2 separate regions of the Homo sapiens genome follow, and region 2 is linked to region 1. The links come from fine-mapping of genetic effects on gene expression. Tissue or cell type: whole blood. Region 1 holds a variant in brackets; the other region holds the start of a gene. All regions are shown on one strand. Distances are between the middles of the regions.

What was found. PIP is the estimated chance that this variant, and not a neighbour inherited with it, causes the effect. A credible set is the group of variants that fine-mapping cannot tell apart.
Region 2: PLCB3 starts here. The variant in region 1 is the best candidate, but not a certain one, in a credible set for the expression of PLCB3 in whole blood (INTERVAL, PIP 0.86).

Annotation. Positions count from the first base shown.
Region 1 is chr11:64,097,105-64,102,467 of GRCh38, forward strand. The region is part of intron 3 of MACROD1 (mono-ADP ribosylhydrolase 1); the gene reads right to left. The region is part of intron 1 of FLRT1 (fibronectin leucine rich transmembrane protein 1); the gene reads left to right. Among named protein-coding and RNA genes, the nearest start is that of FLRT1, 64 kb to the left of the region's middle. The variant A/G (reference allele first, on the strand shown) is at 3,395.
Region 2 is chr11:64,249,020-64,254,382 of GRCh38, forward strand. It overlaps PLCB3 (phospholipase C beta 3), which reads left to right and starts at 2,511. Exons shown (of 31, transcript NM_000932.5): 1 at 2,511-2,729. The coding sequence starts at 2,631. RefSeq lists enhancers at 1-9, 10-655, 656-1,303, 2,598-3,243, 3,244-3,890 and silencers at 2,323-2,792, 3,280-3,493.

The DNA.
Region 1 (5,363 bases):
TAGGTCCCTGTTGCTCAGCTGCACTGTGAGGACGGCAGCTTCAGCTAGGGAACCCTCCCCCTCTGCAGCATCCTGAGCCTGGCAGAACTGGGCCTCCAGACCCCCCAGAAAGTACAGGGAGGGACTGCTGGGTCCAGTGGGGCAGGTAGGGAGGGGCAGGTGGCTACGGTCTGCGCCCAATTTGGGCTTCTCTGCCAACTCAGCACCAAGGGATGGGTGAACTCCCAGGCCACCTCTGGCCAGAGCTGCCCACATGTGAAGGGAAGGAAGGAAGAAAATAAAGAAGGGGAGATGTCCCGTGGCAAGAGAAGCTCCGTCCTGGGCGAGTGGGCCCCGCACCCCTGAAGTGCCCTGCTCTGGGCGCTGCCTGCTGAGTTTCTCTGATGGCCATCTTGAGGGTGGGCGCTGGCAAAGGCCCAGGCCCGCCGGCCGGGCGGCACAGACTCCTGAAGCCACCCACGGCCTGGCTCGCACACTCTCGCAAATACCCTGAAAGTCTGGGTTTTGTCAGGAGATGGTTTAATTAGCAGAGCGGAGGCTGGGAGGGTTCGCACCACACAAGCAGGCTCTCGCCTCCGCCTCTTCTCACCCTGCTACTCGGGTGCCATGCAGCGGTGCCAAGCCTGGGGGCCCGGAGCGAGTGGGCAGGGAATGGGGTGGGCCCATCTCACAGGGCAGAAGGCACAGCCTCCAGAGGCCTTCCTGCTCCTGCTCAGGCCTGGGGCTGCAGGCTGCAGATCAGGACCAGGCTTGGAGCCCATAGCAAGCCGGCTGTCCATGGCTCTCTTGGTGGTGCTCCTGGGAGCACTCAGCTGCCCTCCAGTGAGGAGAAGGAGGCGGGAACCCACTCAGCACCCAGGCCTGTCTTCAGGGAGTAAAACCTGGGGGCCTCCCAAGTTGGCCCCTTCCCTTCAACCCCTCACTGTATGAGGTCCCTACCCCATGTCCCTGTCCCTGTTCCTGAGGACATGGTCCCAGCTTTTCACTGGTCCTCTCCTGTGCACCTGGGCACCTTCCAGGTCTCCATGCAGCAGCGAGAACACTCTTTCTAAACTGCAAGTCTGGTCACGCTCCTCCATGCCTCGGCACCCTCACAGCCTCCCCCCTGCCCTTGTACAAAGACCAGGCCCCTCAGTGCAGCATTCAGAGCGCCCCTAAGGCCAGGCTCCGGGCCCTGCTTCAGCTCGGATCACGGCCCTCCACTCACTCAGAGCTCTGGGACACTGACCTCTCACTATACCAAGCCCTCCCACCTCCAGTCTTCACATAGGCTGTTCCCTCAGCCTGAAATGTTCTTCCCGTCCCACTCCCAACATGCTGAGCCCATTACTGGAGCGGTCCTAGCCCCCACACGGCAATGCTCTCCCTGCCCCCAGCCTTCTGTCTCCAGTGCCCTCGGGAGAGAGGGAATAAGCAGCCCCCAGACTGCTCTCTGCAATGGGAAAGAAAGGAACAGGCTCTGTGGATGGCCATCCTGGTAGGGGGAAGTCAGAGCCATGGAACAAACTCCAGTTTGAGTCACAAAGAGCCTTTTCATCTATAAAGGTCAGATACAGATGCTGACCTCAGCCTGGAAGTCCAAAATGAAAGAAAATCCTGGGTCTCCTAGCTCGCACCAGCTCTGACCTGCTTACAATGATCTAAACTCTGCCCTCTTTGCCACAGGGCAGCTCTTCCCAGGGAGGGGGCAGGCATGTTGTTCATTTAAAACACCACTTCGCTAAGTCACCAGCCATAAAGCCCACCTGGGTTTCTAGCAGCACATACCAGCCATCTGATTAATGACACATACATAAAAATCCATCCCAAAGAGCCAAAGGTTGAAATGAAACAGGAGGGCTAATTGCTAATATAGGAATTAATATCAGAGAGCTCCGATCTTTAAGGCAGCTATGAACTGTAAAGCTGAGGGCCTGAGGATCGTTTCTACTTCGGGAGGAAGCCCTGAGTGCCAAGGGTGGGCAGTGGCTCTAGAAGATAGGCAGGTGGTCAAGGGGAAACACAGCCAGACCTGCCTCCCTCTGGATTGCCACTGAGCTCACATGTGACTGTCATAACATGAGAGTACCCCAGAACCACAGCACAGCGTCATCTTCTCCAAGAAGCCTCCATGATCCACCCCACTCCCCGAAGGCTGGGCAAGGCGGGGCTCTTGGCTCCCACACTGCCCTGTGTGCGTCTCACATTGTAGCCCTCTGAAAACCAATGCCCTCCCCACTGGACTGTGAGCTCCTGGAGGATGAGGGCATCTCTTTGGATCCCCAATGTCTTGTACAATGCCTGGAGCATGATTAGACTCAGAATATGTTTGCTGGATGGAGAGATGGGTAGATGGAAAGATGGAGAAATGGATAGGTGGAGAGAAATGGATGAATGGAGAGACGGATGGATGAATGGACAGACGGATAGATGGAGAAATGGATGGATGGATGAAAAGATGGAGAGATGGATGGATGGATAGAGGTGAATAGATGGACTGATGGAGAGACGGATGGAAGGATGAATACAGAGATGGAAGGATGGATGGATGGAGAGATAGGAGGATGGATGGAGAGATGAGTGGATAGATTGATGGAGGGATGGATGGATGAAGAGTTGGAAGGATGGAGAGATAGATGGAAGGATGGATGGAGAGATGAATGGATGGGTTGACAGATGGAGAGATGGATAGGTGAATGGAGAAATGAGAAGGAAGGATGGACGGATGGAGAGGTGAATGGATAGATGGATGGATGGATGGATGAATGAATAGAGAAATGGTGAGATGGAGGGATCGAGAAATGGAGGGAGAGATGGAAGGATGGAGGGATGGATGGATGGAGGGGTGCACAAGAGAGCCTCAGGAGAAGCCCAGGACCCCTCAGTGCAGTGTTTGGTGGATGGTCCGTTTCTCTTGCGCTGTCTTGGAGTAGTGCAGCAAGAAGGAAACTGGCCTGGAGTTTGAGGCCCTGACACTGCTACAGGTTGTATAACCCTGCACAAGTCCTGCTCCCTCTTCTCAGTCCACACAATGAAAGTGGTCCTCCCTGACCTGCTAGCCATGCTGTCTTCCCAAGCTCAGGGAAGATGGCAAGGCAGAAATTACTGGGAAAGGACAAGGTGCATTGTCCCCTGGCATATATGTATGGGCAGATTCGGCCAAAACGCAGAGGGTGGTGCAGAGATGTGAGATTGGGCACTTGGCTTTCTTTCCCTCCTTTCAAATTTCTTTTAATACAGTTGTGATGTGATTGACGACAACAAAAGTAGAAAATTGTGTAAGCATCTCAAAGTACTTTTACTCAAAATGGAAGCTTTTATGATGTTGACTCAAAAAATGGTTTATTGGTTTTGAGCACAGAGACCAGACCTGGAGCCTGTGGGAACGGGGGAGGCCAAGGCGAGGAGTGTAACC[A/G]CTAACTTCACACGGCATGGTCTCCACTCACTCGAGCCAGAAGGGTGGCCACTGGGGGTGCTGTGGCTCTGGCGGGAGGTGTCTGCCAGGCGCACGCATTTACATATTTATTCTTGGGCCTCCTTTGGTTCAGTGAATGCAGGTGGCTACTAATGATCATCATTATGCGCCCACACAAGGGAAGAGCCACAGTGCTGCTGGAGAGCTCACACCTCCCAACCACTGCCAGCCAGACTCACTTGGAAAACCAATACACACCCCAGAAGCCTGAGAGGCCCCACTTATCCAGGGCACAGACGCTGAGGAGCCCAGTATCCCAGCACTGGGGTTCCAGGAGGCTCTGCAGGCCCCAGGGAAGGTGGGGGTGGGGGCTGCAGCAGGGAAGGTGGACTGAGGACATACAAAGCTGGACGGGCACCAAGAGCCTCACTTAGTGCCTTGGTTTTCTAAATGAGGGAGCAGATGGAGAGTTTGGTGGGTGCATTTATTAAGCACCAACTGCATGCAAGGCACTGAGCCAGGTGCTGGGGGATCCAGCCTCAGGTCCTCCCTTGAAGCCAGGGAGACAATTCTTTTCATGCTCCGTTGTTGCTGTCATGGTTCACAGGACCACACAAGCCAAGCAGAGGGTGGCCCATTGCAGGGAGGGAGGGATGACGTCTGCATGGATTCTTACAGAAGGGGAACAGTACAGTGAAGGGCCAGGCTGGAGCCAGCTCAGGGCATTAGTGGGCAGTAGTGGGAGACACGGCTGGTGGGCTGGGCAGGGCCCTTGGAGACTACTGTAGGAGCACTGCCTCTATCCTGAGAGCTATGGGACGCTCTCAGGATAAAGCCGAGAAGCTATGGGAAGGGTCTGAGGTGAACACACCAGTGGGATGAACCTGCCTCCTTTTTGGGTTCTTAATTTCAAAAGCAGAGCTCAGTGGTTTCTCTCTTTATCGGGAGGCAGCGGCCACAGCTGACTGGAGCCTCTGGGCTCCCAGGACACGGCAATCATCCTCTCAAAATGCCAAGGCCCGCTGCCCCTGCCCCACCCCCATCGGTATAAAACAATTTCTGCGCCCCGGCCAGGGAGGCGGATGACCTCACTGGACTTTTTCCATCTCTCGCTTTCATGGAGAAATTACAATTTATAATTGGATGAAATCACGCGGGTGGTAATAGCAATAAGGGCTCGTGCTAGAGCCGGCCGCCCTCCCGCCGCGTGCAGGGACTCTGTCCTCATCTTCCCTCCTGCGTAAGCCCCACCGTACCCCTTCCAGGGCCTGTGCCCCACCTGTAGTATTCACCAGGCACTGGCCATTCAGAATCGATGTCCCGTGGGGCTTGCTGGCTCTGAAACCTCCTTCTTCCTAGGGCAGCTTGTCCCAAGAAAACTCCCCCTGCCACCCTGTCCACCCCATCAGACTCAGCCTGCACACCACCTGGCTGGCACACACCCTTCCCAAATGCCTTCCCTGCCAGGCTGTGAGCCCCGTGGGCAGCCACCCCCCATCTGGGTGCTGGGCTTATTAAAACATGAACCCTAATATCCCTGTTTTTATTTGTAACGGCCTCTGACAACAAGCATTTCTCAAATCAGCCACCTTAGGCCCTACAAAGAAAAGTGCCCAGATGCAGCTGAGCCCATCTGGATCTGATTTCAAACCAGAGTGAGCACTCTCAGATGTGTAATAAAAGCCCTTTTCCAAAGAGGGGTTCCTGCAGGGGGAATACAGACACCAGGGCGCCGCGGCCCTTCCACATGCCGCACTAATGAGAGGTGCTGGGGAGGGCTCGGGGTTTTGTTTTGGATTCCAGAACAGCCTGCCCTGCCCTCCGTCTGTGTGGAAGAGGAGGGCGGCTGCGGGTGTTGAGGACTGACCCCCCACCTAGGAAGTGGGGTGGGCACCAGACAGAGGCCAGAAACACGGAGACCCAACTTCCCCAGTTCCCTGATGGTCCTGCTTCCCATGGTGGGGAAAGG
Region 2 (5,363 bases), 150 kb after region 1:
GGGCCTGCAGGCCATGAAGACCCCCAGCCCTAGCTCTGCCCCCAAGATGCTGTGACCCTGAGCCCTGACCTTTCTGTCTGTCCTCCCTCAGGGTTGGTGTGAAGGTCTCCAGCCATGTCCGTGTCCACAGGTCAGGCATTCTTTCTGACTCTCCCTCTTCCCCCCACCGCGCCATGCCCAGGCACACCCAGATTCCTGTCCAGTTCCCATGGCTATCCACCCGAGACCACTTGGTGCAGGTGGGCATGCTGGCCTGCCACCTTCTTGGAAGCTGGGCCACAGAACCTTAGCCTTGGAGTAGAAATACTGGGTTCAAATCCTGGCTCTGCCCCATGGGCTGAGAGGCTGTATGCAAGTCACTTACCTGCTCAGAGCCTCTTCAGGGGGCTTATGGTCCTGACCTCCTGTGGTTGGGGGCCCATGCCCAGCCCTGGCCCTCCTGCCTGAGCCCTACTGGGACTGGAGTGTACCACTGCTCCTCCTCCTTCTAGCCTCAGTCTGTGGCCTCCCCAGCCCTACCCCTTCCAGGGCCCCAGCCCCCCTCCATTAGAGTGCATCCTTGAAGCAGAGGCTCTGGGGAGGGTCCTGTGGGTCAAGACCGCTCCTTCAATCAAGGGTAGAGTCCGGAAAGGCTGCCTGCCTTCACCATTACTGCCTGCTGAGATACCCTATTACCATTACCAAGGATGGAAGAAAGTGTCTGGGAAGGAAGGAGCCCTGTAATGGGGGCTGCCCTGGCCTCCAGAGACACAGGGTTGGGGGAGGAGAGAGGCTTAAGCCCAGGAAACAGGTGCCCATCCTGTTTTTTTCCACAAGGAGCTGCTGCCCAATGCTTCTCTAAAGTACGCTTGCACAAGGCCTAGGGCCCACAGCTCAGATCCCCTAAGCTCAGGCCTTGGCTCCAGGCTTTGCTAGCCCTGGCACAAGCTGGAGGTTCCACTGCCCCAGAGCTGACCTATGCCCTTTCCTCCCTCCCTGGTATACCCACAGCTTCCAGCTACTCATGTCAATTTGGCATCTCCCACCCATTTGCTTATGTATACAACAACCTTTAGGTTCTGGACAAGGTGACTGAGGCACCTAGAGAGACTAGGTTCTGCCACTAGCAAGAGGCTGCTAGCAAGAGCCGGATTTGAACTCCAGCCTGTGAGGGCAGAGGCCAAGCTCCACCTTGCATGGTTCTGTTTTCCCAATGAGGTCTAGAGGCTCCTGGGCCTCAGGAAGTCGGAGGGTTGAAATCCTCCTAAGAAGCTGTGTGACCTTGGGCAAGTCCCTTCCCCTCTCTGGGCCTCAAGTGGAGATCATAATCACACCCCACAGGGCCAGGGCTGAGAGCGAGGAGATCCGCCAGGTTAGAGTTGATGGAGAACTTGGCGGGGTGTGGAGGAAGGCCAGGGCCAGGCAGGGCTCCTTGTGGAGGTCTCAGAGCCTGGGGCAAAGGGGCCTGCAGGGGAGCTCCTCCTTTGCTGACCCCTCCTCCCCCAGAGCCAGCTGCATCTCTTTCTGGGTTTCTAGGTGACTTGGCTGGCCCCTCTGGATGAGTTCTACTTTAAACCTGCTGCTGTTACTGCCTCTGTATTGGGGGGGCTCCCACAGGGGCCCCCAGGCAGGAACCCCCCCCACCAGCTAAGCCCTGCGGGAGGGGCTGCAGCCCCCACCCATCCCATTGCCCATGCGCCTTCCCCGCTCCCATCTCTGGAACGCAGATTTCAGGGCACCTGCTGTGGGCCAGGCACTGCAGAGCCCCTCCTCAACCCTCCTGTCTGGGGACATCCACAAAGCTTCTGACCCCTCTGGGCAGACAACAGCGTTCCCCCCGCGGTTCCCAGCCAAGAGGCTCACAGTCAGGTTCCAGTCATGGGAGTCTGCAGCAACAAGAAGGGGGCTGTTCTAGGGCTCACTCTCGAAGACCAGGATGCTTGGGTCCTTAAAGGAGGTGGCAGGCGCCCGGCCTCCCTGGGCTAGGGACGGGGGAGGGGTGCCTGCCGGCGGGAGGTCCATTAGCCGGCTAAGTGCTCCCAGGGAGGGGGGACCGCGCGGCATAAGAGTGGGTGAGGCGAAGCCAGGGCAGAGGGGGGCGGAAGAAGCTTTTCCTGCATTCAGCTAAGTGCGGCAGAAGAGGGTGGGCGACAGGGCTGTGCAGCGACCCCCCGGCCCAAGTCTAGCCCTCCGCTGGTACTGCAGCCCTAGTCGCTCGGAAACCTCAGTGGGCTGATCCCGGACCGCCTTAAGCAGCGCCCTCTACACCCAGTCCCTCCAGCTGCTCCCCAACAGCCACTTCGGCCCCCAGCGCCCTCCTTCCACCACAGGCCTGAAGAATCAGGTTCTGCTGAGCCCCGCAGCAAAGCCCCCGACCCGTCCGCGTGCCCCTGCCCCAATCCCCGCTCCGGCTGCAGTCGCCGCCCCGGCCGCCAGGGGGAGCCGACGCGGTGGGAGGGGGCGGGGCCCGGGAGGCCCCGCCCCGTCCCCGCCCCGCCCGGGCCCCGCCGAGGCTCTGGTCGGTCCGGGACAGACTGGCGGGCGGGCGGGCACTGACGCCGCGGGGCCGGAGCGGGCCGCGCGGTGGGAGCAGCGGCGCCGTCGGTCCCCGTCAGGGCTCCGTGGGTCCCCGACCCGCCCCTGGCCGGGCCATGGCGGGCGCCCAGCCCGGCGTCCACGCGCTGCAGTTGGAGCCGCCCACCGTGGTGGAGACCCTGCGGCGCGGGAGTAAGTTCATCAAATGGGACGAGGTAAGCGCGCGGGCCCCTGCTCCGCCCAAATCCCGGGACTCTTTCAGTCAAGCTCGACCAGACGCTGGGGACCCCCACCCCAGCCTCGCCTGCCCGTGGCGCCACCCTCATCCCAGTCTGGCGGCGCCCCGGAAACTTAAGTCCCCGATCGTCTCCGTAATGAAGACTTTGTCCCCCCAACTCCCAGTCCCTCAGCTCTGGAAAATTTGCCTCCACTCCTTGGCGCAGAGACTTTGAACCCCAATAAACCCCGTCCCCCCGTTTTCCATTCGTTCTTCCCACCGCTCCCTGCCAGACTAATTCTCGTTCCCCGATCCTGGCCTGGTGCCCAGACCCCTGCCCAGCACTAGACTCCCCGGCTGCAGGACCCTGACTTCCAGGCTGGCTGGGGGCATCCTCATTCTGGGTGTGTGCCAGGGCGCCCCTACTCTCCCCGGTGCCCTGCCTGAACAGTCCTCGTCCATTCATCATTTTTCCCCCTGTTCTGGTTGGCACCCCTTCGCCCTGCTTCTGGATCCCAGCCCAGCTCCCTGTTCAGATGGGAGCACCCAGTCACCCCCTAGTGGAGACTTTGCCCCCCAAGTTCCTCCACCCCTGGGAACTTTGCTCCCCACTCCTTAGGCTTGGGACCTTGAACCCCAATACATCCTGGCCCCCCTTTCCCTGTCCTGCCCCTGGTGCTTCCCAAATGCCTGTGTCCCCACCTTCGGCTGCCCATCCCCATCCTGGGTGCATCCTCTTCTGCCCCCTGGGCCCTTCCTTCCCTAGGGCCTCCACCCGGCCGGCCTGAGCTTCCTCGCAGCTCCTTCCCAGTCAGGCCACGGGCCTGGAAGACTCTGGGCTCTTTTCCGGCTGGGTGGGGCCCCGGGGTAGGCGTGGGAGCTGGGGGGAGGAGATGGGGGCGTGGCCTGAAGCGGCAGGTGTGCGAGGTGGGGTGCCTGGGGGCCCCAGGGGCCGGGGGAGACCCCTCCCCCCAGGCTGGCCTGAAGGGAAAAGTTTCTTCTTTTCATTCCACTGTGATAAACCCAAATAAGGAAGTGGGAACAGGGAGAGGGCCCTGGGGGTGGGGTGGGGGGTGCTGACGGAGGCTTGGGGCAGGAGAGCAGGGGACCTGGGCTGCCTTTGAGGTCCAGACCCCTGGGGAGAGGTGGGAGGGAAACACTAGGGGCAGTACCCATAGACTCCCCGCTCTGCACACCATTCGGGGGCCTCAGGCCCAGGGTAGGGTTGGGAATCCGGAGAAGTGCTGGGGCTGGGTGTCAGCACACTGAAGTGGGGAGGCCCATGCATCCCCAAATTTTGGGGGCCTTCTGTTCCCAGATGAACGCCCATCTTTTGTAAGCAAAGCCTGCCATGGGTGGGGCTGGTGCAATCCCCATTCTCCAGAAGAGGAAACTGAGGTCTGGAAAGCAGAGAGTTATCCCAGGCCCCACAATGGGGTGTGGCTGAGGCCAGGAGCCGGGAGCCTGGCAGAAGTCTCCGCTCCCTGCTTCCCAGGTCACAGGACGCTGCAACCACACTGCCTGCAAGCAGGTCCTGGCTCCAGTGATCTCGGGCAGGCTACGAAGTGTCCCTGTAACTCAGTGTCCTCATCTGTAAAATGGGAGTGACAACAGCACATGCCTCTTAGGCTGGTTAGGAGGCCTTTGTGTGCTCGAAGATGCTAGGTGCATAGAACTGTACCTGGTGCGCAGTAGGGGCGGTGTGCGTATATGAGATGTATTGATAATAATAGTATTGTCCACCAGACACTGAGATGCATTTTGGGGGTGGCACCCAACATGAGGTGGGGTCCTTTTCTGTCTGGAAGAACCTGGAATAGGAGGGTTCTACCTGTAGCCACTTGTTCACTCTGGCCCTGGCCGAGTCTAAGCCCTGGAGGACAGCCCCTCTGGCTGCTGGTCCTGAGTCACACAGGGTGGCCCTGGTAGTGTGCCAGGGACCGGGCCCTTCTTAGAAAATGGGGCTGGCATGCACTTCCCTGCCCCCTGCCAGCTGCACGGCTGTTTGAGGGAGGAAGAGCTCACTGCCCAGTCCTGAGAGTAGGGCAAGTCCCCTTCTAGGGGGACTGTTCTTCTACGAGATGGGGATGAGCTTTGAGGCTGTGAGGACCCCGGCAGATGTGGTAAGGTGGATAATGGGCTTTGAGGCAGACCACAGGGCTATCGTGATGTCCCAAGGGATGCAGAAGGGCAGTGGGAGTCAGACTTCTCACTTTCATGCCTTAAACATTCTGCAGTGGGGTGGATTGGGGGGCTGCCACTGTCACAGAGCTCTCAGCACTTCTGGGGAAACTGAGCCCAGGATGGGGGCTGGGGACCTCTTCCAGGGGGTGGGTCAGATTTCACGGGTGGAGAAGGAAGGGCAGGGTGTCCTGGCAAAGGGAACATGAGACAAAGCCCTGGGAAAGGTCAGGTAGAATCCTAGGGCCAGAGGGAGGTGAGGCTGGGAAGAGGCTTTGAGGTAGGTGTGACACTAAATGTCACACCTAGGACCTTGGCTTTGTTCTGAGGGCCACAGGCAGCCACACAGGACCTGTGGACTGGATGAGGTTTCGTCTTAGCTCATGGGCAGGAACTCTGGGGTGCATGATGGGAGGGCCCCAGGGGCCAGGCCTGCACCACAGCCCTCACT